5 separate regions of the Homo sapiens genome follow, and all the other regions are reported to be linked to region 1. The links are microRNA targets in miRTarBase. Many come from high-throughput screens and were not tested one by one. Region 1 holds a microRNA gene; each other region holds the end of a gene's coding sequence.
The links. Region 1 holds the annotated microRNA hsa-miR-5695 (ACUCCAAGAAGAAUCUAGACAG, at 3,175-3,196, shown strand). A microRNA usually pairs through its seed, bases 2 to 8, with sites in the 3' UTR of a target mRNA and lowers its output. Matches are read on the target gene's strand: a 7mer-m8 pairs with bases 2 to 8, a 7mer-A1 pairs with bases 2 to 7 and ends in A, and an 8mer does both.

Region 1 (6,492 bases):
GGATTACAAGTGTCTGTCACCATGCCTGGCTAATTTTTGTAGACACAGGGTTTCACCATATTGGCCAGGCTAGTCTCAAACTCCTGACCTCATGATCTGCCTGCCTTGGCCTCCCAAAGTGCTGGGATTACAGGCGTAAGCCACCGTGCCCGGCCTACTAAATTTTTCTTTTTTCTTTTTTTTGAGACGGAGTCTCACTCTGTCACCAGGCTGGCATGCAGTGGCATGATCTCGGCTCACTACAACCTCTGCCTCTGGGGTTCAAGCGATTCTCCTGCCTTAGCCTCCCGAGTAGCTGGGACTACAGGCGTGCACCACAACACCCAGCTAACTTCTGTATTTTTAGTAGAGACGGGGTTTCATCATGTTAGCCAGGATGGTCTCCATCTCTTGACCTTTTGATCCACCCCCCTCGGCCTCCCAAAGTGCTAGGATTACAGGCATAAGCCACCATTCCTGGCTTTTTTTTTTTTTTTTTGAGACAGCGTTTCGGTCTTTTTGCCCAGGCTGGAGTGCAATGGCGCCATCTCAGCTCACTGCAACCTCCACCTCCTGGGTTCAAGCGATTCTCCTGCCTCAGCCTCCTGAGTAGCTGGGATTACAGGCATGTGCCACTATGCCCAGCTAATTTTGTATTTTTAGTAGAGACGGGGTTTCTCCATGTTTGTCAGGCTGGTCTCAAACTCCCGACCTTAGGTGATCCACCCGCCTTGGCCTCCCAAAGTGTTGGGATTACAGGTGTGAACCACTGCACCTGGCCAATATTTTTTAATAAATTGGCCCGACATTCTGGCCCGCCTCTAGTCCCAGCCATTTCGGAGGCTGAGGTGGGAGGATCACTTGAGTCTGGGAGGTGGAGGTTGCAGTGAGCCGTGATCATGCCACTGCGTGGTGACAAAGCAAGACGCTGTGTTAGGAGGGAAAAAAAAAGCAGCAGACACTGGCATAGCCTTGTGGAAGAAAAGGGTGAATGAGAGGGACCCAGGGGCCTGTGTAGACCCATAGGGCTGGGATCTTCCTCACCTAGCTGGCCCTCCACCAGCTTCCTCCTCGCAGTTCTCTTCCCACCGCGGATGCTCCTTGCTCTCCCCCAAGGGCTGCGGTTCCTGGTCTTTGCATTTCACATGGGGCACGTCCACCTGCAAGCACAGTCAGGACGGAGGCCAAGGAGGGAGGATGAGGAGTGAACAGATCGCCCTCCTGCCGACCCTTCAACCCTGGTCACCTCGATGTGCTGCTGCGGGACGGTGGGGACCCGCAGGAAAGACGGGCAGGGCTGGGGCAGGTGCCATGAGGGCAGGGGCATGGGGTGAAAGGACACTCTGTCCCTAGGGGACACCAGGACACCAGACCTAGAGGGGCCGGGTGAGGGCAGGGCTGTGGGAATGTAACTGGAGGACCTGGGCTCCTAACTGGTATGTGTGTTGGCTGGAGTCCTTCGAGAAAGGAGAAGAGGTAGGAGAAAAGAGATGAGGCCGGGCGCGGTGGCTCACGCCTGTAATCCCAGCACTTTGGGAGGCGGAGGCGGGCGGATCACGAGGTCAGGAGTGCGAGAACAGCCTGAGCAATATGGTGAAACCCCGTCTCTACTAAAAATACAAAAATTAGCTGACGTGGTGGTGCGTGCCTGTAATCCCAGCTACTCGGGAGGCTGAGGAAGGAGAATCACTTGAACCCGGGAGGCAGAGGTTGCAGTGAGCCGAGATCACGCCACTGCACTCCAGACTGGGCGACAGAGTGATACTTCGTCTCAAAAAAAAAAAAAAAAAGAAATGAAAGAAACGGGTGCGGTGCGTGGGTGTTTGTGCCTTTCTCTACTCCGTTCCGGCCACGCGCCATGTGTGGAAATCAGACCCGTCAGTGCGTCAGTCAGGGCCGGGTTCAGTCAGTCAGGAAATTTGAGGCCAGGCCTGATGAGAGGGAGCCCCAATGGCAAAGGACAAGCGGCCGGGCTCGGGTCCGCTGGAGATGGCTGGGATCGCAGCCGTTCCCTGCCTATCTGTCCGCCCGCCCCACGCGCGAGAAGGAAACAAGCGCCGCGTACTCCCTGTCGCTCCATTCCGTATTTTCCCGCCTTCAAGCTCGCACCCTCTGCGCATGCGCCGACCCCGCCCCTGGCCAGCTGCGCTCCCGCGGACGAGTGTGTTGTGACGCGTGCTCCCGGCCCCGCCCTCTTTGAGAACTTGCGCGGCCAACTGGGCGGGGCCGACCGTTAAGCAGCAGTTTCGCGGTCCGCGGGCTGCGCGCGCAGTCGGCGCCCCTTGGGAGCAGGACGGCGCGCTCTGGGTGCGCTTGTGTGCCCCTGTGAGGCTCCTGGGTTCCACGGGGCGCCCAGGTTATACGGATCTCAGAGTCCTGTATTTATTCGGTGCTTCTAACTTCATCCACTCTGCCTTGGAAAATATACTCCATAACAATTTTTTTTTTTTTTTGAGACAAGATCTTGGTCTGTCGCCCAGGCTGGAGTGCAGTGGTGCGATCACAGCTCACTGTAGCCTCGACCTCCCAGGTTCAAGCGATCCTCCTGCCTCGGCCTCCTGAGTAGCAGTGTCATTCACCAGGCCCTTCTAATTTAAAAATATTTTTCTGGCCGGGCGCGGTGGCTCACGCCTGTAATCCCAGCACTTTGGGAGGCCGAGGCGGGTGGATCACCTGAGGTCATGAGTTCGAGACCAGCCTAGCCAACATGGTGAAACTGTCTCTACTAAAAATACAAAAAATAGCCGGGCGTGGTGGCGGGCGCCTATAGTCCCAGCTACTCGGGAGGCTGGGGCAGGAGAATTGCTTAAACCCAGGACGCAGAGGTTGCAGTGAGCTGAGATCATGCCACTGCACTCCAGCCGGGGTGACAGAGTAAAGCTCCGTCTCAAAAAAAAAAAAAAGATTGTATGTATATATACACACACACACACACACACACACACACATAATTATATTTTTTTTTCCTGTAGAAATGAGATCTCACTGTGCTGAGCCCAGGCTGATCCCCAACTCCTGGGCTCAAGCCGTCCTCCCGTCTTGGTCTCCCAAAGTGCTGTCTCAAAAAAAGAAGAAATTATCTGATCTACCCTATTGACTGTAGGTCATAAGACCCCCGTTTCAAAGAAGTTTCTGCCCCACACAAGGCCTATCTATCTAGATTCTTCTTGGCCTCTCTGAGCATGCATTCCTGAGACTCCAAGAAGAATCTAGACAGATAGGCCTTGCTGGGTTTCCCCACTCAGCCTATTAGTATTAGACGACCCCCCCGGCTTTTTTTTTTTTTTTTTTTTTTTGTCTTGCTCTGTTGTCCAGGCAACACTGGAGTGCAGTGGCAAGATCTCAACTCGCTGCAACCTTGGCCTCCCAGGTTCAAGCGATTCTCAGCCAACCAAGTAGCTGGGATTACAGATGCACCATGCCCAGCTAATTTTTGTATTTTTAGTAGAGATGGGGTTTTTCCATGTTGCTCAGGCTGGTCTCAAACTCCTGGCCTCAAGTGATCCACCCGCCTCAGCCTCCCAAAGTGTCAGGATTACAAGTATGAACCACGACAAACCCTTTTTGTCCAATCAAATTTCTACCTGGGTGTTCAAACTTTGCTGAACCTAAGCATAAGACACTTTTCATTAATCAGGCATGGTGGCGGGCACCTGTAATCCCAGCTGCTTGGGAAGCTGAGGCTGCTGTGAGCCAAGATCGCCCCTACACTCCAGCCCAGGGAACAGAGCCAGACTCCGTCTCAAAACAAAACAAAACAAAAACACAGTTTCCCCTGTATCTCTGGATCTTCATTCTGAAGGCTTGTCAGGTAACACTATGATCAAATACATTCGTATTCCTTTTCTCTTATTAATCTGCCTTTTCTCAGTAATTTTTAGTGAAACTTCAGAGGGCAATAAGGAAGCTTTCTCTTCACCCCTACACAGCCAAAGTTCAGATTTGATGGAAATGGCAAGATTCCAGGGTACTTGTGTTTATTTAGACACATAAATATGTATTTAACGACAGGGTCTCACTCTGTTGCCCAGGCTGGAGTGCAGTGGTGTAATCACGGCTCATTGCAGCCTCGACCTCCCAGGCTCAAGTGATCAACCTCAGTCTCTGGAGTACCTGGGATTACAGGCATGAGCCACTATGCTGAGCTAATTTTTGTTTTCTGTTTTTGGGGGACAGGTCTCACTCTGTGGCCCAGACTGGAGTGCAGTGGTGTGATCTCAGCTCCCTACAACCTCCACCTCCTGGGTTCAAGTGATTCTCCCACCTCAGCCTCCCAGATAGCTGGGACTACAGGTGCCTGCCATCATGCCTGCTAATTTTTGTTTTTTGTTTTTTTTTTTGGAACAGAGTCTTCTTCTGTCACCCAGGCTGTAGTGCAGTGGCACAATCTTGGCTCACTGCAACCTCCACCTCCTGGTTCAAACGATTCTCGTGCCTCAGCCTCCCGGGTAGCTGGGACTACAGGTGCTCACCACCACGCCCAGCTTTTTTTTTGTATTTTTAGTAGAGACGGGTTTTCACCACGTTGGCCAGGCTGCTCTCGAACTCCTGACCTCAAGTGATCTGCCTGCCTCAGCTTCCCAAAGTGTTGGAATTACAGGCGTGAGCCACCACGCCCAGCCTAATTTTTTTTTTTTTTTTTTTGAGACGGAGTCTTGCTCTATTGCCCAGGCTGGAGTGCAGTGGTGCGATCTCCGCTCACTGCAAGCTCCGCCTCCCAGGTTCACACCATTCTCCTGCCTCAGCCTCCTGAGTAGCTGGGACTACAGGCACCCGCCACCACGCCCGGCTAATTTTTTGTATTTTTAGTAGACAGGGTTTCACCATGTTGGCCAGGATGGTCTCAATCTCTTGACCTCATGATCCACACGCCTCAGCCTCCCAAAGTGCTGGGATTACAGGCATGAGCCACCGCACCCAGCCCTAATTTTTTTATTTTTAGTAGAGATGGGGTTTCACCACGTTGGCCAGGCTGCTCCTGAATTCCTGACCTCAAGTGACCCACCCACCTTGGCCTCCCAAAAGTTCTGGGATTACAGAAGTGAGCCACTGTGCCTGGCTCAGTACCCATACTTTTTTTTTTTTTTTTTGTATTTTTAGTAGAGACGGGGTTTCACCCTGTTAGCCAGGATGGTCTCGATCGCCTGGCCTCGTGACCCGCCCGCCTCAGCCTCCCAAAGTGCTGCGATTACAGACGCGGGCCACCTCGCCCAGCCCAGTACCCAGAATTTTGACCATCAAGTGGCACACTGAGCTAGGGGGACCCAACAAGACCCCTCACCCCTAAGGAAAGCCACCAGATGGGGGCAACTGCCCACTTTATTAGACAATAGGTGGCCCACAGGTCTCCTCAGGGCCCACCCTCACAGTAGACACACCACACAGGACAACAGAAGGAACCTGCTACCCAGTCCTCTGTCCCTGGGATTCTGGTCCTGGGACAGGTGGGAAAGAGGAAGGTGGGGGCTGGCCTCACAGAGGCCTCATAAATACAAGGTCACTGGCCAGGGATGCAAAGGAGCGCAGCAGCAGGGACTCGGGGAGGATGACCTGTCCTAGAGTGGCCCATGTCACGCAGCCTCCTGTGTGGGAGGGGGCCTCGGCTCGGCATCCAGGCGGCACAGGGGACTGTCATACACCATCTGCAGGTTCACCTTGTGGCCCACCAGCTCCCGGATATTGTTGATGCCATATTTGATCATCGTTGGGCTTGTGGGGGAGGGAACAGAGTTTATCATGAGGTCAGCACGTGCACCCTTCTGCTCAGATTTCCATGGCTCCCATCTTCTTCAGAGGAAAAGTTCAAGTTCTCCCCATGACCCACAGGGCCCTGCGCCAACTGCTCTATCACCTCTCACCCTCCGCCTTCAGCCACACCAGCCTCCTCACTCTTCTCCTAATACAAAAAGCACATTCCCACCTCTGGGCCTTTGAACTGACTGTGACCACTACCTGGGACACCCTTCCCCAGATACTCTCATGGTTTACCTCTTTATCTACCTCTAGATTTTGCTTAGGTGGCACTTCTTCCTCCATGATGCCTTCACTGACCACGTAGTTGCCTTAGCCCTCCCTATACCACTTACTGCCCTGGTACACACTTCTGTCTTCTTTTGCTGAGTGCATTTGTTTTTTTGAAACAGAGTCTCACTCTGTAACCTAGGGTGGAGTGCAGTGGCGTAATCTCAGCTCACTGCAACCTCCGCCTCCCAGGTTCAAGTGATTCTCATACCTCAGCCTCCTGAGTACCTAGGACTAGGACTACAGACGCACGCAACAGTGCCTGGCTAATTTTTGTAGTTTTAGTAGAGACGGGAGACAGAGTCACACTCTGTTGTCTAGACTAGAATAGAGTGCAGTGGCATGATCTTGGCTCACTGCAACCTCTGCCTCCTGGGTTCAAACGATTCTCCTGCCTCAGCCTCCTAAGTAGCTGGGATTACAGGCACCTGCTACCACGCCAGGCTAATTTTTATATTTTTAGTAGAGATGAGGTTTCGCCATGTTGGCCAG
Region 2 (6,676 bases), not on the chromosome of region 1:
AAGCTGAATTTTCCTAAGTAAACTAGAAAGAACATGGAGTGTGTGTGACTAACTAGGATGTTTGTGTTTACGTTTACAAAGATAACTTTCACCTACAGTGGTTGTAGATACAAGTAATAAAAATGAACAAGACCAGTATTCTAACGTGGTTACCTTCCAAGATTGGAAATTTAACCAGGCGTTGAAATGCTGAAAATTTCTGTTAGAAAAGATGGGCGAAGGAATTAATGGTGGATACTGAAACCACAGTTGGCTGTATGAGTTGAACTGTAACAGGCAATACCTGTTGTATGGCCAACATGATTACTCAGTTGCAGTGCACATGTTGGCTGGTTGGCATATGCTCTGTAAGCGCAGCTTGGCAGTCTTTAAGATCCATAGAAATACTCTTTGACGTTTGATCTCTAAGTTCCATTTCTGGGCATTTGTCCTTAAGGAATGGAAAAGCAGGCAAACTAAAGCTAGTCATTGCAGCAATAACCCACTGGAAACAACTGAAAATATAATGAGAGAATTGTAGAGTGCTGGATAAAATGTTGTGGGTCCACTCAAAATGATTCGAGTGTTGTAGTGTGGAAAATGCCCAAGCCAGGGGGGACACATTTAAAATGGTGGGTACACTCTGATTGTGATTATCAAATATATAGATGGACAAGGACAGGAGGGTTTTTTGAAAAGTAAAGACAGATGAGAAGTGTAATATAACCTAAGTCTTTAAAACGTAGAAACATTTAAAAATACAATTGCTTTGAATTTGAGTGGACTCATATAAAACAAGAATTGTCTGGATTTGCTGTCTTGCTGTTAAGGCAGGGTTCTTGAAAAGAGCTGTGTGTCCACTGCCTCAATCACTCCTCACAGTCCTGCTGCTTCTCTCTTTGCTGAAAATGCTTTAGGGGTGGAATGTCTGTTCTTAACCACTGTGGGTGGCTTCATAAATCACCTCCTTACTGAAGTGTGCTTGTTAGGCCTATTGGTTATCAAATGGGGCACAGTGTAGCTGCCTCTTAAAAAGTTGTGAGGAATGAGTTAGAACTGGATCTGAAGTCCTCAGGTAATAGGCATGGCTATGACTGGGTGACTTTAAGCATTGTTGCTTCTCAACTTGCTTTGTATCCTCAGCAGTCAAACCAGGTGCTCTTGGCTCCATTCAGACTCTTGGGTTCTGCTCTTGACCATTTTGCAAAGAGTTCTGAACCTTCATGGGCAAGGTCAAGCACCCTGTGACTGGGGGAGAACCTTTGAACCTGGAGTGTGGGCCTGGGTTCGCCCCGGATCCCTGTCCATTGCTTGCTGTGGGCCTTGGTTTCTTTATCTGTAAAATGGAGGTAATGCCTGGATTACAAGGCTGCTATAAGGATGAGAGGGGACAATGAGGGTACTTTTTAATGAAAGCATTCTTGTCACCACCAGGGAACCATAGTCAGGATTTGGGGGCATGTAGGTGTCATTCCACAGCCACTTACCAAGCAGCCCTCTCTTAGCTTGGTGCTGGGACTCATTGCCTCTCCAATGGAATTTTCCAAGTGTGTTGAGGGCTGTCTTGCTCCTTACCTACTTGATTCTCTTGCAGATCTTACTGTGCCGAGATCGCTCACAATGTTTCCTCCAAGAACCGCAAAGCCATCGTGGAAAGAGCTGCCCAACTGGCCATCAGAGTCACCAACCCCAATGCCAGGCTGCGCAGTGAAGAAAATGAGTAGGCAGCTCATGTGCACGTTTTCTGTTTAAATAAATGTAAAAACTGCCATCTGGCATCTTCCTTCCTTGATTTTAAGTCTTCAGCTTCTTGGCCAACTTAGTTTGCCACAGAGATTGTTCTTTTGCTTAAGCCCCTTTGGAATCTCCCATTTGGAGGGGATTTGTAAAGGACACTCAGTCCTTGAACAGGGGAATGTGGCCTCAAGTGCACAGACTAGCCTTAGTCATCTCCAGTTGAGGCTGGGTATGAGGGGTACAGACTTGGCCCTCACACCAGGTAGGTTCTGAGACACTTGAAGAAGCTTGTGGCTCCCAAGCCACAAGTAGTCATTCTTAGCCTTGCTTTTGTAAAGTTAGGTGACAAGTTATTCCATGTGATGCTTGTGAGAATTGAGAAAATATGCATGGAAATATCCAGATGAATTTCTTACACAGATTCTTACGGGATGCCTAAATTGCATCCTGTAACTTCTGTCCAAAAAGAACAGGATGATGTACAAATTGCTCTTCCAGGTAATCCACCACGGTTAACTGGAAAAGCACTTTCAGTCTCCTATAACCCTCCCACCAGCTGCTGCTTCAGGTATAATGTTACAGCAGTTTGCCAAGGCGGGGACCTAACTGGTGACAATTGAGCCTCTTGACTGGTACTCAGAATTTAGTGACACGTGGTCCTGATTTTTTTTGGAGACGGGGTCTTGCTCTCACCCAGGCTGGGAGTGCAGTGGCACACTGACTACAGCCTTGACCTCCCCAGGCTCAGGTGATCTTCCCACCTCAGCCTTCCAAGTAGCTGGGACTACAGATGCACACCTCCAAACCTGGGTAGTTTTTGAAGTTTTTTTGTAGAGGTGGTCTAGCCATGTTGCCTAGGCTCCCGAACTCCTGAGCTCAAGCAATCCTGCTTCAGCCTCCCAAAGTACTGGGATTACAGGCATCTTCTGTAGTATATAGGTCATGAGGGATATGGGATGTGGTACTTATGAGACAGAAATGCTTACAGGATGTTTTTCTGTAACCATCCTGGTCAACTTAGCAGAAATGCTGCGCTGGGTATAATAAAGCTTTTCTACTTCTAGTCTAGACAGGAATCTTACAGATTGTCTCCTGTTCAAAACCTAGTCATAAATATTTATAATGCAAACTGGTCATTTTTGGGATTTTGTTTTTGAGACTCATTCTGTCACCCCGGCTGGAGTGCAGTGGCTTGATCTTGGCTCCCTGCAACTTCTGCCTCCTGGGTTCAGGCGATTCGATTAACAATTGGAGACGAGTCGTGCAGAGGAAAGAAGTAACTTAGAATCTAATCTTTATTAACCTGGGATATCACAGAAAATACTTGGGCCTGCCACTTGTATTTCTTTGTCCTCAATACTGAACACTAGACACATTTGAAACCTTCCTCAGAAGGAAACAAACCAACTGGTTATGCCTGGGTGGTGGCATGGAAGATGCCCATTGTTGCCCAATTTGCTAATAAGTATTTTGAAATTAGAAATGAAACATGAGGTCCAAGCCTGTCCAGTTCCCTACCCAACCCATTCCTCCTCCCTGGAAAAAAGAAACCCGTATCATCTTCCAAATTTCTGATTCATCACTGCCACTTAAAAATGAACCGTTTTGAATTTTAAAATGTGAATAACTCAAGTATCTTTTCTTTTGAGATGCCCGGCCTGAGCACTAACTTCAGGCATTGCTGAATGCAGTGAAGAAACCAGAGTGGTGTCTGCTGCCTCCTGATCTTTTACAGCTGACAGCACAGCCTATTTCTAAATACTACTAGTTTGTGAGGCAGAGACACCCTCTGAAGGAACCAGACAGACTATGGAGGGGTACAGTGTGAAGTCACTGGAAAACTTCCTCACCCTATTTCTTTGGATGACTGTCCTGAGTTAAGGAAGGGGCCCAACTGTTGGCAGCCTCACAGCTTGGGCTGGGGGCCTTTGAGTTGGGTCCCTGGAGAAGGCACTGTAAGCCCTGACCAGGAGCGACAGGGCCCCCAGTGAGATGGTGGAAGGGCAAAAGTAGAGACCTGCGATGGTGGGATGGGGAGGCCTCGGACTTGGGTGGGCTCCTTTCTCTTAAGCGAGGGCCCACCTTGGTGCTGAGGGGACTAGCTGAGCTCCATTGAGTCTGTGCTGGGGGCTGAAGCGGAATCCTTCTGGATGCTTTCAAAGAGGGCAGCAAGTTCAGGGTTGGATCTGATTTGGGAAGAGAAGTCGGCCATGATGGGGCTTTTCCCCACCTCGGGGATGGTCAGCAGGGCAGCCACTGCCCTCATTGCAGAGCGCTTCAGTTCATCTTGCTTTTCAAACTCCTGCTTCACAGAACCAGCTTTGACCTAAAGTAGGAAACAGCAGAAGCAGCCATCCTTTATTGAGCCTGGCCCACACCACTGCCTCCTCACTGGTCTTTGGCTTCCTCTCTGCCCCATCATCTTCCCCAACATAAATCCCTGCTGCGAGGTCTCCTGAGGCTTCTGTCTCACCAGCTATTTCCTAACTCCACCTCTGGGCTTTTGCACTGGCTAGTTTCCCCACAGAGGTTCTTTGCCATTCAAATCAGCTTGAGTACAGCCTGAGGGGCCTCTGAGCAGCCAATCTGAAGTGCTCGCTTTTTGTTAATTGACAGTGGCAAGTACTGTGTTCCCATACTTACCTCCTACAGACTGCAGGGATCCAGCCTATATTTGCTGTGCTTAAAACCAGCTCTTAGCACCATATGACTAGACTGAATGAATGGATCACTGCGATGGTCTTCTAGCAGCCTCCTCCCCATACTCAAGTCCCTGCCCCGCAATCAGTTTTGCAGATGCAGCCGGAGTGTAAGCACCCCAAACTACCTCCTGCAGTTTCTGTTTCCTCTTCCCCCACCATCTCCTACCTAGGCAGAGGAGCTCAGTAATTCCTCCACTGCTTATGGACTAAAGTTCAAGTTCCTTATTATGCTGGGCTCTTCCTAAAGAATTCAATGCAGTGGGTAACAGCTTGGCATTGGAGTTGCAGAGTCCTGTGTTCAAATGGCTCTGCCCCCAAGAGCTGTGACTTCAGGTAACTACATCTTTGAGCCTCATTTCCCCATCTATAAGTAAGAGCTGCCTCGTCGTAAGAGTTGCCAAGAGGATTAAACGACACAAGTCCACACTCCCTTCTCTGAAACCCCTGGAGCCAGATGTGCTTTGGAATCCAAGACATTTTGGGTTTTAGAAAGGTAATACTGTGCAGATAACATTCCCGAGGGGTTTTGTACAATACCCTGTAATCAAATACATGAATACTCTACTACATGTATGAGTAATGTGAGTAGTACAGGTGTCCCTCAGTATCCATGGGAGTTTGGTTCCAGGATCCCAGGGGATGCCAAAATCCTCAGATGATCAAGTCCCTTATATAAAAGTGGTACATTGGTAAGAATTAAAGATCATAGCCTCATGCCACTTCAAGTCAAGTTGTGTGACAAACAGGTTCCTAAAAAGCTTTTGGTTGTCAGAGCTTGGTAGATTTCAGGGTCATGGGTAAGGACTGTGGGTGTGGATTTACCCATGCTCATCCCAATGCCCAACAGACAGCATCCTCCGCGTGGCCAGATGAGTGGCTCTTGTGGAAACTCAGGGCAGAGCTTCTCTTGCCACCTCGGCTTTACTGCAAGAATGTTCTGGCACTGCAGTGCCATATATACCTCCCTCTTAAGAACTGGGACTTTTCTTGGTGCCATAGAGCTCAGAGAAAACCAGAAATGAGAGACTGTCAAAACTGGCCTGGCCCTGTAGAAGTGTTTTTTTGGATGGACTCAATAATAAGCATATGTTAAAAATGTAAACTTACAAGGCAGGTTTCTATGAATAAACTACCAATTTTAGTGTTTTATCCACAGAAGATTTCATTTTTGAAAATCACCACTTTATGGGTATCTCTCCTCTTTAAGTGCCAACCTAAAACACTGCTCTCCTTTTGGTAATGATTCCCATCCTTAAAAAACCCAAATGTATTCTTTCATTCAACAGGTATTTACTAGGTACCACGTAGGTGCGCCAGGCTCTGCTCCCAACGCCAGCTTTCCATGAGGGCTTGCACCCCACATCCCTCCTCCAGACCCTTCAGGCACTCCAGTCTAGCAGCAGCTTTGTCCTAGACCAGTCATCTGACCCAGCTTCCCAACAAGGAGGTGAGAGATTGACAGTAGGGAACCTATCAGGCTCAATGTTACATCTTTAGTATCTCCCACGAGGCTCAGCACCCAGGAAGTGTTTAATGAATGGAAGGAGAGACAGAGGTGGGTCTGAATCCAGCTCTGCAATTTACTAGCTGTGTAGCCTTGGCCAATAACAACTTCTCAAAGCCTCTGTTCCCCTGTGTATACAATGATAATAAGAGGTACTTTATAGGGCAATGACAATGATTAAATGAAGCACTTTCACAACATCACCTGCACTGCAGGAAGTGCTCAGTAAGGGTAACTGAACGACTGGCCGAGGACTCCATAGGTGCTCCAGGGCCTGGGCTAGGGCTGGGCCAGGGACTTACCTTGGCAGTGCAGGTGGCCCTTAGTGGCTCAATGAGTCGGTCCACCCTCTGCAGGACAGGTGCAGGACACAGGGTGGCCAGCCGGGCAACCATGATGAAGGTCAGCATCTGCCCAGAGGAAGGAGATGGTTCTTAGTGAAATGGTGCAGGAGCAAGAGCAGCAGCCAGCCCTGGGAAAGAGCAGAGGCCCCACAACTGAAACCTGAAGCCCAAGTTCAGACCACCGTGAAGTCCTGCCAGAGTCTCTCCCTCTCTGGGTCTGTTTCCTCAAATGGTGACACTTTCTTTGCCAACTACACTTGGATGACCCAAGGAGGATCAGAAAAGCACCAGGGAGGGAGTCGTTCTCAAGCTCAGATGCCCACCAGTCAGGCAGATGCTGGGGATGAGTGAAGGGGGCTGCTGGGGCAGCTCTGGCTGAGTGTGGCCAGGTGGGAGTGCAAACATGTAGC
Region 3 (5,435 bases), not on the chromosome of region 1:
TTTTGGAGTGGGGGAAGGACAAATCTGATCCTGTAATCTTTTTCTTTCCAGTAATCCCTTGTGTCTGTTGCATGAGGACATGGACAATAAAGTAGTATATGATCCTCAGATACAGGGAGAAGGACAAGGCATACAGCTTATTGATTAGAGCTGGCAAGCATCTGCTCATTATGTTTGGAATTGCTTTCTATAAGAAAATTGCCCACTACTACTAACTTGATCAACAATGAATTCAAAATAGTTAACCTATGAAATAACATCCTCTCAAATGTTTGCTGATGAAGTACAAGTTGAAATGTAGTTATTGGAAAAGTCTGTAACCTGTGGATCATATATATTCAAAGTGAGACAAAGGCAAATAAAAAGCAGCTATTTTCATGAATAGACAAAGTTGATTTCAGGAAGTATAAATTATATTCTGCACCGAACAAGGAACAGAAATTATTGCATCTGTGGAACATATATCTGGAGTTACTATACTTTACTGAAGAGCAAGGCATAAATTTAGACTAAAATCCATCCAGATTACACTCATTCTTTAGGCTACTCCTGGATACTTCATTTAAATTTGATTTTCGAGGTAGTGAGATGTCGGCAAGGTTTGTCCTGTATATTAGGAATAAAGGAAAAGTTCTAAACTGCCTCTGCAATGACTTGTAGTCAGTGGAAGAGTATCACTTTCCCCTGATCATGACCACTAAACTGTAAATTGATATAAATTAGTTTTCTCTCGAGTTACACCCAAGTAATGAAGACTTAAGAGAACCTTGGTTGAAATAAATTTCCAATAGTTTGGAGACTCATAAATACCATGCAGGTGTAACCACTGCCAATAGGCTGTTTCTATGCTTATTTCCTATTTTGATTTTTACTTTGAAGATAGGAATATCTAAATTATATCTCTAGGGAGAAAATGTTGTAAAAAATTAAAAGTACATCCCTGATTGTAAAATAAAGTTCAAAAAACTGATTTCAGAAAGTCTCAACTACCAAATGTTTTCAATATATTAGTTTTGAGATGCTAGGATTATACTGTGATTCTTATGTTTATAGTAAAGTCTGGAAAGCAGAAGGATAGTTTTTTTAGCCTGGAAACTTATTTATGTTGCCTTGGTGAGTCTTCTATCATTTTTTAAAAATTTAGCTTATTGAACTGTAAAATAGCTTTTCTAGTATGAGAGATGTTTTGAATTTAAAAAATGAAATGCAGTTTTTCAAAAATAAATTTCCTTTGGAAATTCTTGCATATCAATTTAGTAAGGTTTTATAAAATTTTACAATTTGATAAAGTATCACATCTAGAATTCACTGTCTTCTTTTATCTGCTCTCAAGTTGGCATTGCATCACTGCCTGTGTCTTACACTGCACCAAATGTTACCTAATTGACCTAACTTTTTTTGTCTAATATCTTTCATTAAAAACAATTGGATTATTTAACCAGAAAAAAAATCTGGTAATAGAGATGTTGCTATCCTAGAATACTCTCTTGACAGTCTGTATGCCATGAAAACTTGCATAAGAAGGCAGCTGATTACGAAAAATTAATCATCATTGAATTTAGTATTACTAAACTCATAGCATTTGTCCAGATTTGTAAACACTATTGATTCTAATGTGAAAGATGGAAAAGCAGTCCCAGAATTGGCTTAGCACAGAGACTCTAAATGATAGTAAAACAACATATTCAACTTTAATTCCTGTCTTATTGTTAATGGGAAGTTAGTTATGGTTCTACTTAAATGTTGTAGAGAAAATAAGTATTACTAGTTTCTTCTCATAAAAATACTCCCTGGATACGTACACTGAACAACACAAAAAACGTAATGGCCACTTAAGAATATTTATTTATTTATTTATTTTTTTGAGACAGAGTCTCACTCTGTTGCCCAGGCTGGAGTGCAGTGGCACGATCTCAGCTCACCACATCCTCCGCCTCCCAGGTTCAAGCGATTCTCCTGCCTCAGCCTCCCAAGTAGCTGGGATTACAGGTGCCCGCCACCACGCATGGCTAATTTTTGTATTTTTAGTAGAGGCGAGGTTTCACCATGTTGGCCAGGCTGGTCTTGAACTCCTGACCTCAGGTGATCCACCCATCTTGGCCTCCCAAAGTGCTGGGATTATAGGTGTGAGCCACCACGCCCAGCCAAGAATATTTACTAAAGGAAGCTTTGACCCCTGCATCACATTTTTTTCATATTTCCCTTTCTGTAATCTCAGCACTTTGGGAGGCTGAGGTGGGTAGGTCAAGAGGTCAGGAGTTCGAGACCAGCCTGACCAACATGGCAAAACCCCGTCTCTACTAAAAATACAAAAATTAGCCGGGCGTGGTGGTGCGTGACTGTAATCCCAGCTACTTAGGAGGCTGAGGCAGGAGAATCGCTTGAACCTGGGAGGCAGAGGTTGCAGTGAGCTGAGATAGTGCCACTGCACTCCAGTCTGGAAAACAGAGTGAGACTCTGTCTCAAAAAAAAAGGTATTGATGAATAAAAATTATAACTAGAATAAGTACTCTAACAATTCAGATTTATAATTGAGTTGTCTGAAAGCTACCTTTTTCATTGTGAAAGTGCATATTAATGTGAAGAAAATATTCCTATTTGAGAACTTCAAATATGCATACACAAAGATGTTCCAGCTATTTTTATCTTCTTAAGTATGCATTCTACATGAGAACGTTTGGGTTGGTAGTAAAATAAATAGTAATATCAAAATAGTTTATTATGTTTAAATTTCATTCTTTTGGAATACATAATTTTGAGTGATCATGTCTCCAACTACAGTTATTCAGGCACAAATTTTGGAGGTACAAAGAATAAATAATATTCTTAAGGTAGTTTTTCCTTTTATCAGGGTTCTTCTAGAGTACTGGTCTCATTATTTTCTAAAGCAGTTTTTCTAAGGTGATAAACCGAACACATTACTTGCTATGTATTAAATGACTTGTACCACTAAATAATCAAATTCTAAGCTCTAACAGCTTAATTCTAAAATCATTGTCTGGTATATTTGTGTTTTCAATTACTTTGTGTCTTTCACAGCTGCCAAACCCAGAAAGGTATGTTATGGTTATAGTTTATCTTCTATTTTTCCCTCTTGAACTACTCCCAAAGGAGGAAGAAGGATGCTCATTATATACTGCCTCATTTCTTTTTAAATTACCACTATAGTGCCGTAGAGTTATACCACTGCTTCTCATACTTATGTGCACATTAGTCACCTTGGGATCTAGCTAAAATACAGATTCATTCAGTAGGTTTGGGGAGAGGCCTGAGAGTCTGAATTTTTAATAAGCTGCCAGGTGGTGGTGACAATGATTTGTGGACTACCCTGTGAATAGTAACTCGGCCTTAAGAGAACATTAACCAAAACCTTAAGCTGAGCAAACTACTGAGCAGCAAGTATTGACAACATTTCAAGGTTTTGTTTTTTGTTTTGTTTTGTTTTGAGATGGAGTCTCACTCGGGCTGGAGTGCAGTGGTGTGATCTCGGCTCACTGCAACCTCCGCCTCCCGGGTTCGAGTGATTCTCCTGCCTCAGCTTCCCAAGTAGCTGGGACTACAGGTGTGTGCCACCACGCCCAGCTAGTTTTTTGTATTTTTCAATAGAGATGGGGTTTCACCGTGTTAGCCAGGATGGTCTTGATCTCCTGACCTTATGATCCTCCCGCCTTGGCCTCTCAAAGTGCTAGGATTACAGGCATGAGACACCGCGCCCGGTCCATTTCAAGTTCTAAAAAAAGTTCAACGTATTTCTTTAAAAATCATGCAAAACAGCCCTCTTGTATAAACTAGAGTGGGGAAAAAAGAACTTGAAATTGCACTTTTATTTTAAAACAGTGAAGTGTGGCTATTACATATTTCACTTTTACAATCAATACATGTTAGGATCTTACAAGTATTAAATTGATGATTTTATTATATATAAATACACAAATGGTCCAAAACAATATCTAAAATGTTGCAATATTTATAAAATCCATAAAAATATTTAATTTTCAGTATGAAAATGGCATACTAATTTGAGTTTGAGGTAAATGAAGAGACAGATTTAGGCCATCTAAGAAGGAAGATAAAGGAGAATGTCATATCTATATTTTGGGAAAAGTCAAAGAATGCTAAAGAGCTTGACCTGTTACTGCATTAATGACTTCAGACATTATGCAGATACATATACTATATAGTAATAAATAATACACAATGTAGACAGAACAGAAAGCAGAGGGACTGGACCAATCTGCTCAAGGAAAAGGTAAAGAATTTTTTAAAGTGCAGCAATCAGGGATTCTTGTGACTAATGTGTTTCACTGAAGACAATTTGAATCGTTCATAAACATTAACCCTTTAATCCTTGAAACTTTCCTTTGAGGTAGAGAATTGGGCCAGACTACTGCTGAAAAGCAAGAGGAATGGCAAGGCTAAAGTAGCTCTTGAGAGCTCAAAAGAATCATGGAATTCTTTTTTTTTTTTTTTTTTTTTTTGAGACAGAGTCTCACCCTGTTGCCCAGGGTGGAATGAACTGGCACAATCTCAGCTCATAGCAACCTCCACTTGCTGAGTTCAAGCGATTCTCATGCCTCAGCCTCCTGAGTAGCTAGGATTACAGGCATGCGCCACCAGGTCCAGCTAATTTTTTTTTGTATTTTTAGTAGAGACAGGGTTTCACCATGTTGGCCAGGCTGGTCTCCAACTCCTGGCCTCAAGTGATCCTCCTGCATCACCCTCCCAAAGTGGTGGGATTACAGGCATGAGCCACCATGCCTGGCCAAGATTCATGGAATTTTTGAACTCCTTGTCTTAACTACTCTGCCAGCTCTTGTTGAACAAAGACCAATCCGCTCTTCATGATTTGCTCCTCATGTCTTCTTATAATTCTAATGTGTCTACATCCTTGGATACCATATAATAGGAAAATTCTTTTAAACAACTAAAACAGACATAATCACAATTCCAACTTAATGTAATCCAATACAACTTCATACAAATAGCAGTTAAATCACACGTAGTAAAATTTCGTACAACATTTTTTTAAAGTTTCAAATTCAAATGTTCCAAATGTTTAATTATTTTGTCTTAAGGTACATTTGCAAAGAATTCTAACTGCTGCTATTACCTTTGTCCTTGCTGAAGGAAAACATTAGGAGAATGAGCTGTTTTTAAGCTAAACGTGTCTCCACTTGATGAATGGCGTGAAGGAGCTTTTCCACCCAAGAGTGATGTTTCTGCTTCTTTTATTTCCATTGCCCTTTTGTATAATTCAGCAGCTTTTTCAAAATCTCCTCCTTCATAGCTTTGAGAGAGAAAACAAAAACTCTTAAAATGAGAATATAACCTCTTACCAATTCAAAATGACCTTATGGGATACAGAAAAAGAAGCTGTAAATATTTGCCCATTTCCCCTCTTTTTCCAGTGTATTCACTCAAGCAGACCAGTAAAA
Region 4 (6,676 bases), not on the chromosome of region 1:
AACAATGCATTGTTTATAAAGTTGCCTTTGGGGGTTTTATTTTAAAATGTTTAACATTTATCTGATATCAAGTTAGTGTTAACCAACAAGTGTTAAACATATATATATATATTTATTATATATATATATATATATATATATATTTTCATTAGCAAGGCTTTCCCGCCGCCCCCCGACCCTTTTGTTTGTTTTCAAAACCTAATTTCTTCATTTTTTTCCTTCTTTAGGAGAAAGTGAGCCATGGTGTTTGCATGCCCCGAGGTTATCTTGAAGTGATACCAAATCCAAAGGACAATGAAATGAATAACATAAGAGCCACATGTTTTAATAGCGACATAGTCCTAATGCCAGAGTTATCAACCTTTAGAGTTTTGCCATGGGCTGACAGAACTGCAAGAGTGATATGTGATACCTTCACTGTGACTGGTGAGCCTCTTTTGACTTCCCCAAGGTACATTGCAAAGAGGCAGCTGAGCCATCTGCAGGCCTCTGGCTTTTCCCTGCTTTCTGCTTTCATCTATGATTTTTGCATTTTTGGTGTGCCCGAAATTTTAAATTCAAAGATTATATCTTTTCCTGCTTTAACATTTTTAAATAACCATGATCAGCCCTTCATGCAGGAACTTGTTGATGGCTTGTATCACACTGGAGCCAATGTCGAGAGTTTTTCCTCCTCTACCAGGCCTGGTCAGATGGAAATCTCTTTCCTGCCTGAATTTGGCATTAGCTCAGCTGATAATGCATTTACCCTCAGAACAGGTGTCAAAGAAGTGGCAAGGAAATATAATTACATTGCCAGCTTCTTCATTGAGACTGGATTTTGTGATTCAGGGATTTTGTCTCATAGTCTCTGGGATGTCGATAGGAAGAAAAACATGTTCTGCAGCACTTCTGGAACTGAGCAGCTCACGATCACTGGGAAAAAATGGTTGGCAGGACTCTTGAAGCACTCTGCTGCGCTCAGCTGCCTGATGGCGCCTTCTGTTAGCTGCCGAAAGCGTTATTCCAAGGACAGGAAAGACCTGAAGAAGAGTGTGCCTACAACATGGGGATACAATGACAACAGCTGTATATTTAATATCAAATGTCATGGAGAGAAAGGCACCCGGATAGAAAATAAACTAGGCTCAGCAACAGCAAACCCTTACTTGGTGCTGGCTGCAACTGTTGCTGCCGGCTTAGATGGACTTCATAGCAGTAATGAGGTCTTGGCTGGTCCAGATGAGAGCACAGACTTTTACCAAGTGGAACCTTCTGAGATCCCTTTAAAACTAGAAGATGCCCTTGTGGCACTGGAAGAAGATCAATGCCTGAGACAGGCTCTAGGAGAAACCTTTATTCGATATTTTGTTGCCATGAAGAAATATGAGTTGGAGAATGAAGAAATAGCTGCAGAGAGAAATAAATTCTTAGAGTATTTTATTTAGAATAGAGCTCACAACTACTCCTTTAGACATGTAATTGTTACTTAAAGCTAATCTACCAAAACAAAAAGACTGAACTTTTGTAATTAACAACAGCAACAATAACAAGATTACGAATGCTTTTGACTTTTTTTTTTGTCCATGGAATATTTGACAGATGAAGTAGGACTGCTGAGAAGATTCTGATAACAGAAACAAACAACAAAGTTGTGGTGAAGCTATAATATGCAAACTTACCAGATCTTGTCAGTCATTTCCTATGTGTATGTTGACCTGGATAAGAATATCCAATTTTGGGTGGCAATAAATATATTCGCACATTAAGAAAAAAAAGACTTAAGCATTAGAAAGCAAAATTTAAATGACTAAAAAAGAAAAAAAAGAAAAGGAGAAAAAATTTTAATGGTACACATAGGTTATGATTTCCAGGGAGACAAATATACTAATATAGTCTCGCTAATCAAATAATATTGTGAATCCAGGTTGTATGCACCATTATGGTCTTTCTAAACAAGTTAAATAAACTTTTGCCAAAATATAATGACAGGTAGGCAGTTTTCCCCTAAGTCTCTTCTCTTTTCACCCTTCTCCACTAGCTCCTGAAAAGCTTATGAACTTCAAGGTTATAATGTCCTCAAGAAACAAATCCCTAAGGAATAGAATTGGAGCTGAGAACAACGAGGTCAGATTTTAAAAGTAGTTAAAGCCTTTCTTTTAACAATGCCTCATATAGAAGTTCAATACACAAAGTATAGATAGAAAGATGTTTGTGTGTGAGGGTAGGTGGGCTCTGTCTACTCTGCTTCATTCTTTGAAACTAGATGTTCCTCTGAAACCTCTAGTGCTCTGTGGAGTGTGAGAACAACTGCCTGGCTAGCCAGGGCTATGTTTGGAGTTTAAGTTTGTTATTCAAATTACTGAATCTGCTGCTCACAGAGGTTGGTACCTCCCCAGAGAATATTACCTGTTCCAGGCCTTTGTTTGAATGAGATAATATTGTAACTATCACAAAAGTTTAGCTGCTTTTGGGAAGAAGTCCAAAATCCACTTACTAGCAAATGAAACATTATTCTACTGCTTAGGATCAAACAGCAGATTTTATGTTCAATTAAAACTGACTGTAGTCTCAATTTAGATAGCAATTGCACAAGCAGAGGATTAGAATTTGGCTCAGATCCTCTTATTAAAATTCATATTACTCAGTAGCTTAAATAGTGAAAGTCAGTCTATCCTTCACTAATTACTCCCTTCTTTTTTCCTTTGAGCAGGAGAAGTGTGTTTGGATACATAAGAAGAAAGTTCCCAGCACTTTGGGAGGCCAAGGCAGGAGGATTGCTTGAGGCCAGGAGTTTGAGTCCAGCCTGGACCACATAGTGAGACCCCTGTTTCTACAAAAAAAAAAAAAAAAATGCCTCGCATGGTGGCACATGCCTGTAGTCCCAGCTACGTGGGAGGCTGAGAAGGGAGGATCGCTTGAGCCTGGGAGTTTCAGGCTGCAGTGAGCCATAATCACACCACTGCACTCCAGCTTGGGTGACAGAGTGAGACACTGTCTTAAAAAAAAGAGAAGAATAAAATTCATGGATGCATATGGGGTAGAGAGAAAGATAGTGTAGGGTAGCTGGGGGAAGGAAGGGAACCTGTCCTGAAACCTCCAGAATGAAATCCCACACATTACATCATGGGAGGGATAAGGAAGACTCTCATGCCAATTTTCTAGCTGTCTGCTAGAAAATTCCCCTCTGTTCATTTTCCCCTCTGTTCTCAGTAATAAAACCTCAATATGTTCTTTGAAAGCAATGAAAAATGAAATGATATTTCTGAGCCTTCATTAAGGTTGGATGTGGTCATGTTATTAGGTTCAGTGCAAAGAGGTGAAAGTAGAAGTGTTGCATATAAGTTCTTTAGGACATTTTCTTTTCTTTTCTTGTATTTTTTTTTTTTTTCCGAGATGGAGTCTCGCTTTGTCACCCAGGCTGAAGTGCAATGTGGGGGGGTCTTGGCTCACTGCAACCTCTGCCCCCTGGGTTCAAGTAATTCTCCTGCCTCAGCCTCCCAAGTAGCTGGGATCCCAGGTGCCTGCTACCATGCCTGGCCTTTTAGTAGAGATGGGGTTTCACCATATTGGCCAGTCTGGTCTTGAACTCCTGAACTCAGGTGATCAGCCTGCCTTGGCCTCCCAAAGTGCTAGGATTACAGGCATGAGCCACCATGCCCTACCACACTTTAGAACATTTTTTTAAATGACGGATGCTGTGTGCTCTGCCCTTTCTTTCTCTTGCTGCCTTCACCCTTCCTGCTGAGTGGCCTACAGATAATGTGGCTAGGATTATGTCCTTGGGAAGGGAGGTTTGCTCCACAGGGTACAGTAATAAGGTGGAATCTCTGCTTTGTAGAGCAGTTTGACTTGCCTACATCCAGATGTTTACCTGAGAGAGAACCAAACTTCTATCTTCTTTAAGCCACAATGATTTTGATTCTTTGTTAGTTGCAATGAAATTTATTTTCTCTTTTCCATGTGTGTGTTGTATGTGTGTTTGTGTGTGAGTGTGTGCATATGAGTGGGGAATTTGAGGGATTTGGGGATGAAAGAACAAAGGTATAAGAACCAGTGAAAGACGACTTCCTCAATATTCCCACTTCTAGAGAGGATAATCTGAGTTAATCAAAGGGATCCACACATCCAAAAAATGGGATTGGCTCTAACCCATCCCTATAAAGTGGCATATCCCTTTATAGTCCACGGGCCTTAATGAAACATGTCTAATGCATTGACTTCATTTTACCATAATGAGTAAAGATGCTGTAAAAAGTCTGATAATCACAGTGTTTGAAGCCGTTTTTTCCCCTTTCGCATTATTAGCATAACTTAAAAACACAGTACTCAGGATGCCATGTGAAGGAATTATATAACTAGGAATATTATCTTCAGTATTAAGTGTACAGTCGTGAGTCAAAGAAAATATTCAGCCATAGATTACAAATCAGTTGATAACGTAAGTTGGTGTGGCAGTTTCCACCAAGATTTCAGTTAGGTGTGTGCTGATGTATATTCTTGTTCTTTAAGGCAACCCAAAAAGAGGCATTGGCCAGCAGAGTTCAGGGCCAAAGACAAATTGGGGTAGGTACATGTAAAAATCAGTTATCTATTTTTCTATTTCTTTCATCTGTTCATAGGCTTTCTATTGTTGAAAGGACTTTCTGCTGATGCTTCTACCTTCTTGGTCTGGGTTAAGAGGGTCAGACATTCATTCAGCAGCACTTATTGAGCACCATTTGTGTGCTAAGCCTTCAGCTGGGAGCCATCATACTAGGGGAGACCAAAACAAAGATGAGCAGACAATGAAAGAGTTTTGGATCTGTGTATCTTAAGCAGAACATAAATAATTTTTTTTGTAGACCTAATGCTGAAAAAAGCTATTTGGAAAGCTTCTTTATGGCTCGAAAAGGGTGCCTTATAAATAGCTTTACAAAAATTGCTTTCTTATTTTCATTTACTATAATTGTTCTAATCAAAGCTTAGGGGAAAAATGTGATTACTGAATTTAAAGTTGGTAATTAAATGAGTATACATAAGAAATGTAAATTAAAAGCGATAATATTTTAAGACTAGAAATTAAAACATTAGTATTGTAGTAACAAGTTTCTATTTTCAAGGACATTCTATAATCTAAAATTTCATTTTACAGTGTGTGAATAACAACAACGCTTGAAATGATTATTTGAAGGCAATGAAAGATCAAAAAACTTTAATCTGAATAAAAATTGAAAGCATACAGTGAAGTCTGAGCTTATCAGTAAAACAGAACAGTCTATTGACATATCTCCAGTCACCTGTTTGACAAAATACACTCACCAATATGTTTATGATATAGGTATGACTGGACAATACCTTTAACCTTGGGTTTTCTATGACAGGGGTAAGAATTTGTGTCTTTAAACATTACCTATGTGCACAGTGCCTTCCCTGTTAAAGCTCTTCTCATGCTGCCTATAATTAGGGGTTTACATGATACTTCCTAATTGCTAATTAGGATGTGAATTCTCAGAATAAAAGGTACAGATCTTACTTACATTTGCATTAATACTTCTTGTTCCTTGCATATGTTCTGGAATTCAATTAATGTTTAATCAATCAATGCATATGTTATTAGCATAGTACAATACTATGCTTGTCCAGTATAAAACACACAAATTCACCTACCCAGAGAGAGGGAGGAATAGAGACAGTGGAGAAGTCCAACAGTTTGTGTTTTTTTATTGATCCTGCAATTTCTGCCATTAGAACTTCTTCAGGTTTTCTGCTTCTAGAAACTCCTGAGTAAACACCATTTGATTAGCTTGATGGGGATCAAAAGAACAACAACAATAAAAACAAAAACAAAAAAGAGCAAGGTGAAGTTGTCATGCTTTTTAGCCATGTGGAACCTTTCAATAGCTCTCTTAGATTTGTGGAATCCCTCTTCTTTGGGCTCTTGTCTCAGAAAGTAGAAGTCAGAACCTCACCTTCCCAATTTCTCTTGCTGCCATTGAGAGGTGACAGCGTGCTGGCAGTCCTCACAGCCCTCGCTTGCTCTCGGCGCCTCCTCTGCCTGGGCTCCCACTTTGGCGGCACTTGAGGAGCCCTTCAGCCCGCCGCTGCACTGTGGGAGTCCCTTTCCGGGCTGGCCAAGGCCGGAGCCGGCTCCCTCAGCTTGCTGGGAGGTGTGGAGGGAGAGGCGCGGGCGGGAACCCGGGCTGCGCGCGGTGCTTGAGGGCCAGCGCGAGTTCTGGGTGGGAGTGGGCTCGGAGGACCCTGCACTCGGAGCGACCGATCGGCCGGGGTAGTGAGGGGCTTAGCACCTGGGCCAGCAGTTGCTGTGCTCAATTTCTTGCCTGGCCTTAGCTGCCTTGCCTCGGGGCAGGGCTCCGGATCTGCAGCCCACCATGCCCGAGCCTCCCCCTACTCCGTGGGCTCCTGTGCGGCCCCAGCCTCCCAGACGAGGGCCGCCCCCTGCTCCAAGGCGCCCAGTCCCATGGACCACCCAAGGGCTGAGGAGTGCCCGCTGGTGGCACAGGACTGGCAGGCAGCTCCACCTGCAGCCCCTGGTGCGGGATCCGCTGGGTGAAACCAGCTGGGCTCCTGAGTCTGGTGGGGACGTGGAGAACCTTTATATCTAGCTAAGGGATTGTAAATACACGAATCGGCACTTTGTATCTAGCTCAAGGTTTGTAAACACAGCAATCAGCACCCTGTGTCTAGCTCAGGGTTT
Region 5 (6,676 bases), not on the chromosome of region 1:
AGCATGAGCCACCACATCTAAGTGAGATTTAATTTTTTTTTTTTTTTTTGAGATGGACTCTTGCTCTGTTGCCTAGGCTGGAGTGCAGTGGTGCAATCATGCCTCACTGCAACCCCCACCTCCCGGGTTCAAGTGATTCTCCTGCCTCAGCCTCCTGAGTAGCTAGGATTACAGGCGTGCACCACCACACCTGGCTAATTTTTGTATTTTTAGTAGAGATGGGGTTTCACCATGTTGGCCAGGCTGGTCTCAAACTCCTGACCTTGTGATCTGCCCACCTCAGCCTCCTAAAGTGCTGGGATTACAGGCGTGAGCCACTGCGCCCGGCCGGTGAGAATTAATTTTAAGAATGGTGTTTGGTGGGTGGAGGGAGTCTCATAAAGAAGGTAGTACTTGACCAGAGACTTGAAGCTGTGGGAGGGATGAACCACCTGGAGATCTTGGGGTGCCCAAACAGGGGAACAAGGAGCATGGGGTCCTTTCCTTTACCCCCACCTTAGGATGAGTCTCAGGTTTCCCGTGCCTGCTTTGTTTCCTTGCTCTGCAGTATTGAATGCAAAGGCCAGTGGAGCAGAGTGCTCTGTTGGGATGATGATCATGCATGTATATGGCTTTGCAGAGGGGCAGGTGTGGATGGAGAAGATGGACAGTGTTAGTTGGGTCTTGCCCAAGGTTTGAGGAGCTATTGCATCTCATCCTCACAGTAGCGCCAGAAAGGCAGACTGATGACCTCATTTTACAGTTGAGGAAACTGAGGTCTATGAGCTGAGTCGATTGCCTAAGGCGGCACTGCAAATGACAGAGCTAGGATTCCAGCCAGGCTCATCTGCCCCCAAAGCGCATGCCTACAGGACAAGACTTCACTGCTTCCTCTGTGTCATTGTACAGTGGAGTGATGCTTTGGAAACCGAAATGAGAAGTGAATTGAATAACTTAAGCCAGAAGACCTGTCAAGGCCCTGGGCGAGTGTCCCCGGATATAGTGAACAAGGCCCAGTGACCCTGAGGCGGGTAGCACTCAGGCTGCATAGTGTGTGCATGAGTGAGTGACTTCATCTGCCACAAGAGGTGACACTGCTTTTCAGTAGAGGTGGTAAAGAGGCTTTCATGAATGATAATAAAGAAAGTTTATTCTTGTGTTCTCTTTAGCTTTTTGCCCCTCAAGACAGGACTGCTTATAGCTGACTATTTGGGCATCCTTCATGCAATGGATGGCTTTGTTGACCAAAAGAAGAAGCTCTAAAGACCAACTCTATGGCTAAGGTCATCTGATACACAGTGTTACATAATGCGTACTTCAATGAAGAAAAGTATTTTTGTCTGACAGTGGAATATATCTGGAGACCACAAGTACCACTCCTATTCTGTTATCTGGACTAGAATTTTCAATCAATGTGTTTGAAAATAATGTTGCTATCACCTATTTGGTTGAGTTTTGGTTTTTTCTTTTTCTTTTTTTTTCCAAAAATAAAGACAGCCCATTTTTGTCATTTCCATTACCACAGATGTAAGAAAGTGATAAGCCATGGCCATGAGCTGCCCTGAGCTTTGGTCGTTGGGGAGGTGGCTCAAATGGAGCCAGCGGCTGTGGTTGACCTGCCTTGGGGAGCAGGGCTGAGGGGCGAAGAGGACATGTGGATATCCAGCCAGAATGCCCTCTCTCCAGAGGACACACAGCTCTGGATTTCTACCCCCTTGCTATCCTCTCTGGCCATTTTGAACCTGTACCACCTAATGTAGAAAAGGCCCGCCTCCAGTGCCCTTCTTTCCAAAACAGCTACACAAATGCTTCTGAATGCCCTGGATACGCAGACCGAGTGGCAGTCTGGCTAAAGGCCCATCCAGCACTATTGTGCCCAAGAGCCTTACCGGGCATTCCCTGAAGCCCCCTCATAGGCAGTGATCCTAGACCAAACTCTTAAATAGAATCACTTTTGTTTCCTAGAAGAGATCAAAGAGTGGTTGCTTCTTACTTTGAAGATGAAATTATACCAAGTTAGGTTTTTTGCTATCTATTGATCCAAAAAATATATTCGTGCAATTAAAGTTAAGTGTTCAACTTAGTATTTCAAGTTGGGATTCAGGTTGAGGCATTTTCCTGCAGAATGGGCAATTTTATGCATTTATATTCATCAGTGCTGCCCTCACTTTGGATCTATTGTATTCTTACAGTTTAATCAACTGGCAAAGTGCTTTCATGCTTTGGAGATTAACTATAAAAGCAAGATTAAGAAAAATATGTTAATTACCATATCCCTGGAACTCCTTCTCAGGCTGGTGGGGGCAGCCTTGCAAGAGAAACAGCAGCCTTTGTCTCTTCCCTCTTGTGGGGAGCAAGGAGGGGATGAGCGGTACCTTGGGAGACCCGGTAAAAGTCTAAAGAATTGAGAATTTGACTATCTTGGGGGTAAAATGCTGTCATAGGGGCAGCAGTCTCAGGGGGTGTAAACTCTGGAATCCACTATGGTTTACCTTGAGTGGCCTGCACGAACATGACAGCCCTGATCTGTATTTCCTTTCCATTCAGAAAACCTTAAAAAAAAAAAACTTGTTTTATGATAATATTATAACAATCATAACTAACATTTACTGTGCCCGGCAGCAAATTAAGTATTTGACAAACATTATTTCATTAAACGAGACTGTCAATCATTACTCAAAGAATGATGAAGGTATTTGGTGTATGCCAAAGAATAAAGGCGTTTTATTTCACAGTGACATCTTATTCCACTGTAGATGTATACTGAGAGGATCAAAGGCCCTCTCAGAGTCACCCACTGATGTTCCAAATCCTTGGTTAACAAGGTTAATTAAGAGAGAAGCACAATATTGCTGTAATATTACAATTCCAGAAGCGTATCTTCTAGGGTCCTGTCTATTTAGTTAAAGAATAAAGCTCAGACTCTTCGGGGATTCAGTACAACAAAGGTCCAGGAGCACTGCAGGCATCCTCCACATCATAACAGCATTAATAGCAATTATTTCTAATTGGAGTGCATCTTGGCTGGACTGCGACAAAGGCCTGAAATTCAATTGTGGTTTTAAAATACCCATAAAATTGTCTAAACAAATTCAGATTTACTTGAGATGCTTCTATGAGAAGAGACCACATGTAAATTAGTGGATTCTAGAGGGCACTAAATAACAAGGTGATTTAATGCCCTGGGGAGCAAGGAGTGCTCTTGGCATGTGTGTCATGCCCGTTTCCATCAAAATTTAGTCCTAATGAAGCCATGACCAAGAGCCCAACACCTAAGCCAGGCTGAGGAAACAGAAGGACACAGGGCCAGGGCTGTGCCCCATGCCTGGGCATTCTGCCCTGCAGGGCGCATCTTCCAGCATCTTGTACTCACTGAGCTGCTCCAAAGCAGAGAAGAATTCTTGGTGTAAGATGGAGTTTTGCTGGGTAAAAATGTGTGTCATGCCGTGTGTGTGTGTGTGTGTGTGTGTGTGTGTGTGTGTGGTTTTACATTGTGATGCTGTCTTAGTCCATTAGGGCCACCATAACAAAATGCCACAAATTGAGTACTTTAAACAACAGAAATTTAATTCTCAGAATTCTGGAAGCTAGGAGTTCAAGATCAAGGTGCCAGCTGGTTCATTTTCTGGTGAGGGCTCTCTTGCTGGCTTGTGGAGAACTTCTTGCTGTGTCTTCACAGAGTCTTTCCTTGGTGTGTGTGTGTGGAGAGAGAGAGAGAAAGACATATTTCTTCTTCTAAGGACACCAGTTCCATCATAAGGGCTCTACTTTCTTGACCTCATCTAACCCTAATTACCTCCCAAAGTCCCACATCATCCCATATGAATTTTGGGGTAACACAGACATGCAGTCCATAACAGATGCCAAGATAGAAAAAAACCAGACCACAAATGACATTTACACTCCTTAGAGTCCTCATGCTGAGATGGTCACAGTTCATCAGATGAAATAATTCTGAATCTTGGAGGCAGAGTGAATTGAGAATGCCTGAAAGAAATTAATTCCAACCTGCCAGAGTCAGCACTTGAGAAAAATATGACTGAAAATCTGGGCCACCAGACAAAAACTGTTGTGAAGCCAGACGTCCCATGCAGAGCAGCTCTGGGACGAACATGTCTGGTGCTAGGCACCCTCAACATTCCAGGCTCATGAACCATGTTGGACCGGGAGCAGGGCTCACATATGTAATTCCAGCTCTTTGGGAGGCCAAGGCAGGAGGATAGCTTGAGGCCAGGAATTCAAGACCAGCCTGGGCAACACAGCAAGACCCTGTTTCTACAAAAAATTTAAATATTAGCCCGATGTGGTGGTGCACACTTGTAGTCCCAGCTACTCAGGAGGCTAAGGTAGGAGGATTGCTGGAGCCCAGGAGTTCAAGGCAGCAGTGAGCTATGATCACACCACTGTACCCCAACCTGGGTGACAGAGTGAGACTTTGTCTCTAAAATATTAAATAAAAAATAAGTAAAATGCAGCCTCAGGTAATTTGTCCATCTCTTTGATTCACATTGGCTTCTAAGCCCCCCAGCTTTCATGTCTACCATGTCATGGTGATTTTTATGGAAAGATCCCCAGGGATTTCATTCCTCATGAGATTTTATTTCTCATGACTGACATTATTAATCTCTCAAGCAGGTGGTCCTGGTGACACTTCTACCTACTGGTCTCTTCTGCTGTTCACTCCTTAAATTGTTTGTGTTCTTCAAGTTTCTATCTTTGGATTTCTTTGACTTTGTAGATTCCTTCTGAGGACTCTTAACCATGCCCATTGCTCCTCCACACCATCCAAGCTAGAAACCCAGGTATAATGCTCTACTTTTACTTTATCTGTCATCTCCTTGTCCAATCAGTAATTAAATCCAGTCTGTGCTACCTCTCGACCTCATTAGCATGTTGTCCTCACCATCCCAACTGCTATTGCCTTAGTTCAGACTCTCATTGTCAGTTCCCTGCCGGGGCAATAGTTTCCTGGCCACTCTTTCTGCATCAAGGCTTGCTTGCTCTGTCAGCGAGGATTTCATTCAGCTGGGGTAACTGAAAACTCCAGTGTAATAAGGGCTTGAAGAAAGTAGAAGTGTGTTTCTCCGTTATGTTTAAAAGCCTTGGGGTAGCCATTAAGGGTTGGTAGGGTGCTCCACAGAGTCAGGGACCCAAGCTCCTTCTGTGCATTTGCTCGGCTATGCAGGCTCACGTCCTGAACATCAGTGATAAGTGTGATCTACAGTGACCACTGAAACCTCAGCCATTATGCTCACATTCCAGGCCGCAAGACCCCAGAGGGCATAAGGCACCCCTGCACTCTTTCAGTACAATCTGTGGGCATTGCACACCCCAAAACACCACATCCTATTGGTCAGATTTCATCACATGACTAAAGCAGCCCTCAAATGATGCTGAGAAATATGGTCTTTATTTTGCACCACCCTGAGCCACCTAAACACCAGGGATCCTATTACTGTGGGAAAAGATAAGATCCAGATGTTGGATGTTAACTTAAAAGTTTCTGCCACAGTCTTCCCCATACATTTATGTATTCTCTTCTAATCAGACAGAACGCACAGACCCTCTCCACTGTAAAGATCTGCCCAGTCACTGCAGGTCACTAGAAGTCCAGAACCTATGGCGCTAGGCAGCACCCTCCATCAGATCCTAATATGACTCTTCATGGCCGAATGACCAAGAAGAGACAAGGTGAGTGATTCACCCCCATCTCACTCTACATACAGTGGTGCAGAGAAGCAGAATAGCCATGATTAGAGTCAGAAATGAGAAGGAAAGGAGACAGGAGGAGAAAGAAAGGGAGGGGAAGGAAGGGGAGGAGAGGGGTAAAAAAAAGAAAAGAGAAGGGGAGGGGAAGGAAAAGACGAGAAGAGAGGAGGGGATTCGAGGGAAGGGGAGAAGAGAAGGGGAAGAGGGAGGGGAGCAGAATGAGGGGAGGCCAGGAGACTTTCCATTCAAAACCAGGAAGGGGACAGAAGAAACACAGTGATGGTCCACAGTGATGGGATTTTGCTGGGCAGGAATCACAAGTGCTTCCTTTCTCAGGCAGCCCTGCTTGCTTCTACTCTGTGATATGCCATCTTGTCCATTGTCCTCCATGAACCTAGAGGGTTCTTTGTTGTTTAACATTTTCCCCGCAGCTGAGGTGAGCTTTGCAGACTATATTCTCTCTCAAGGCTACACAGATTGTATAGTCTCAAACTAGAGGGAAGAAGAATTATAGCCTGTGTCAAGGCTGTCTTCACTTTTGCAATACAATTGGCTCCAATAACTCAATTGGCTTCTTGTGTATTTATTTCATCCTCCTCATTGGCCGTTTAAACCACTGCCACAGATCTTGCTTGGACGAAGCTTTAAGACTGAAAGCTGCTCTGTAACTGGCACCTGTGCTCTGCCCATGCCTGCCTCTGTCTCTGGTAGATGTGGTGGGAAAGGTTTAGGGGAAAGGCCATACCCATGGTGTGATGTTTATTGCTGACTGGATCCCAGGTCTGGCAGTCAACCCTTAACGGAAGGTGCTGGGGAAAAACTTAGGACCACAATGTTTCTTCCCCTAAGGCCATTGTCTGGGATCTACACTTCTGAGGGCCTCCCATCAGGCACAGAGGGTGTTGGCTGTTTCAACCCTCCAAGGCTCCAAATTGCCATGCTCTCAGTCAACTTGGCTTGCAGGTAGAGAGGGCTGGGTTCCCTCCCT

Region 2: miRTarBase lists RPL32 as a target of hsa-miR-5695. Seed matches in the 3' UTR shown: 7mer-A1 at 2,386-2,392 and 7mer-A1 at 2,965-2,971.
Region 3: the mRNA of NPHP3 is a reported target of hsa-miR-5695. Seed matches in the 3' UTR shown: 7mer-A1 at 4,681-4,687.
Region 4: the mRNA of LGSN is a reported target of hsa-miR-5695. The part of its 3' UTR that is shown has no 7-base or 8-base seed match.
Region 5: the mRNA of SDR16C5 is a reported target of hsa-miR-5695. Seed matches in the 3' UTR shown: 7mer-A1 at 2,202-2,208.

What each region holds. Positions count from the first base shown.
Region 1 is chr19:12,917,199-12,923,690 of GRCh38, forward strand. MIR5695 (microRNA 5695) reads left to right here and starts at 3,122; the gene lies at 3,122-3,206. SYCE2 (synaptonemal complex central element protein 2) reads right to left here and starts at 2,095. Exons shown (of 6, transcript NM_001105578.2): 1 at 2,045-2,095; 2 at 1,024-1,139. The coding sequence starts at 2,059. FARSA (phenylalanyl-tRNA synthetase subunit alpha) reads right to left here. Exons shown (of 13, transcript NM_004461.3): 13 at 5,281-5,688. The coding sequence ends at 5,550. RefSeq lists an enhancer at 1,775-1,914.
Region 2 is chr3:12,831,121-12,837,796 of GRCh38, reverse strand. It overlaps RPL32 (ribosomal protein L32), which reads left to right. Exons shown (of 4, transcript NM_000994.4): 4 at 1,574-3,312. The coding sequence ends at 1,703. It overlaps CAND2 (cullin associated and neddylation dissociated 2 (putative)), which reads right to left. Exons shown (of 15, transcript NM_001162499.2): 14 at 6,225-6,332; 15 at 2,994-4,042. The coding sequence ends at 3,815. Among named protein-coding and RNA genes, the nearest start is that of SNORA7A, 6.0 kb to the left of the region's middle.
Region 3 is chr3:132,676,804-132,682,238 of GRCh38, forward strand. It overlaps NPHP3 (nephrocystin 3), which reads right to left. Exons shown (of 27, transcript NM_153240.5): 27 at 3,806-5,287. The coding sequence ends at 5,107. UBA5 (ubiquitin like modifier activating enzyme 5) reads left to right here. Exons shown (of 12, transcript NM_024818.6): 12 at 1-2,991. NPHP3-ACAD11 (NPHP3-ACAD11 readthrough (NMD candidate)) reads right to left here. Exons shown (of 45, transcript NR_037804.1): 26 at 5,111-5,287. Among named protein-coding and RNA genes, the nearest start is that of UBA5, 19 kb to the left of the region's middle.
Region 4 is chr6:63,274,772-63,281,447 of GRCh38, reverse strand. It overlaps LGSN (lengsin, lens protein with glutamine synthetase domain), which reads left to right. Exons shown (of 4, transcript NM_016571.3): 4 at 228-5,497. The coding sequence ends at 1,427. Among named protein-coding and RNA genes, the nearest start is that of LGSN, 42 kb to the left of the region's middle.
Region 5 is chr8:56,296,046-56,302,721 of GRCh38, reverse strand. It overlaps SDR16C5 (short chain dehydrogenase/reductase family 16C member 5), which reads left to right. Exons shown (of 7, transcript NM_138969.4): 7 at 1,149-2,717. The coding sequence ends at 1,242. Among named protein-coding and RNA genes, the nearest start is that of SDR16C5, 21 kb to the left of the region's middle. RefSeq lists an enhancer at 6,342-6,676.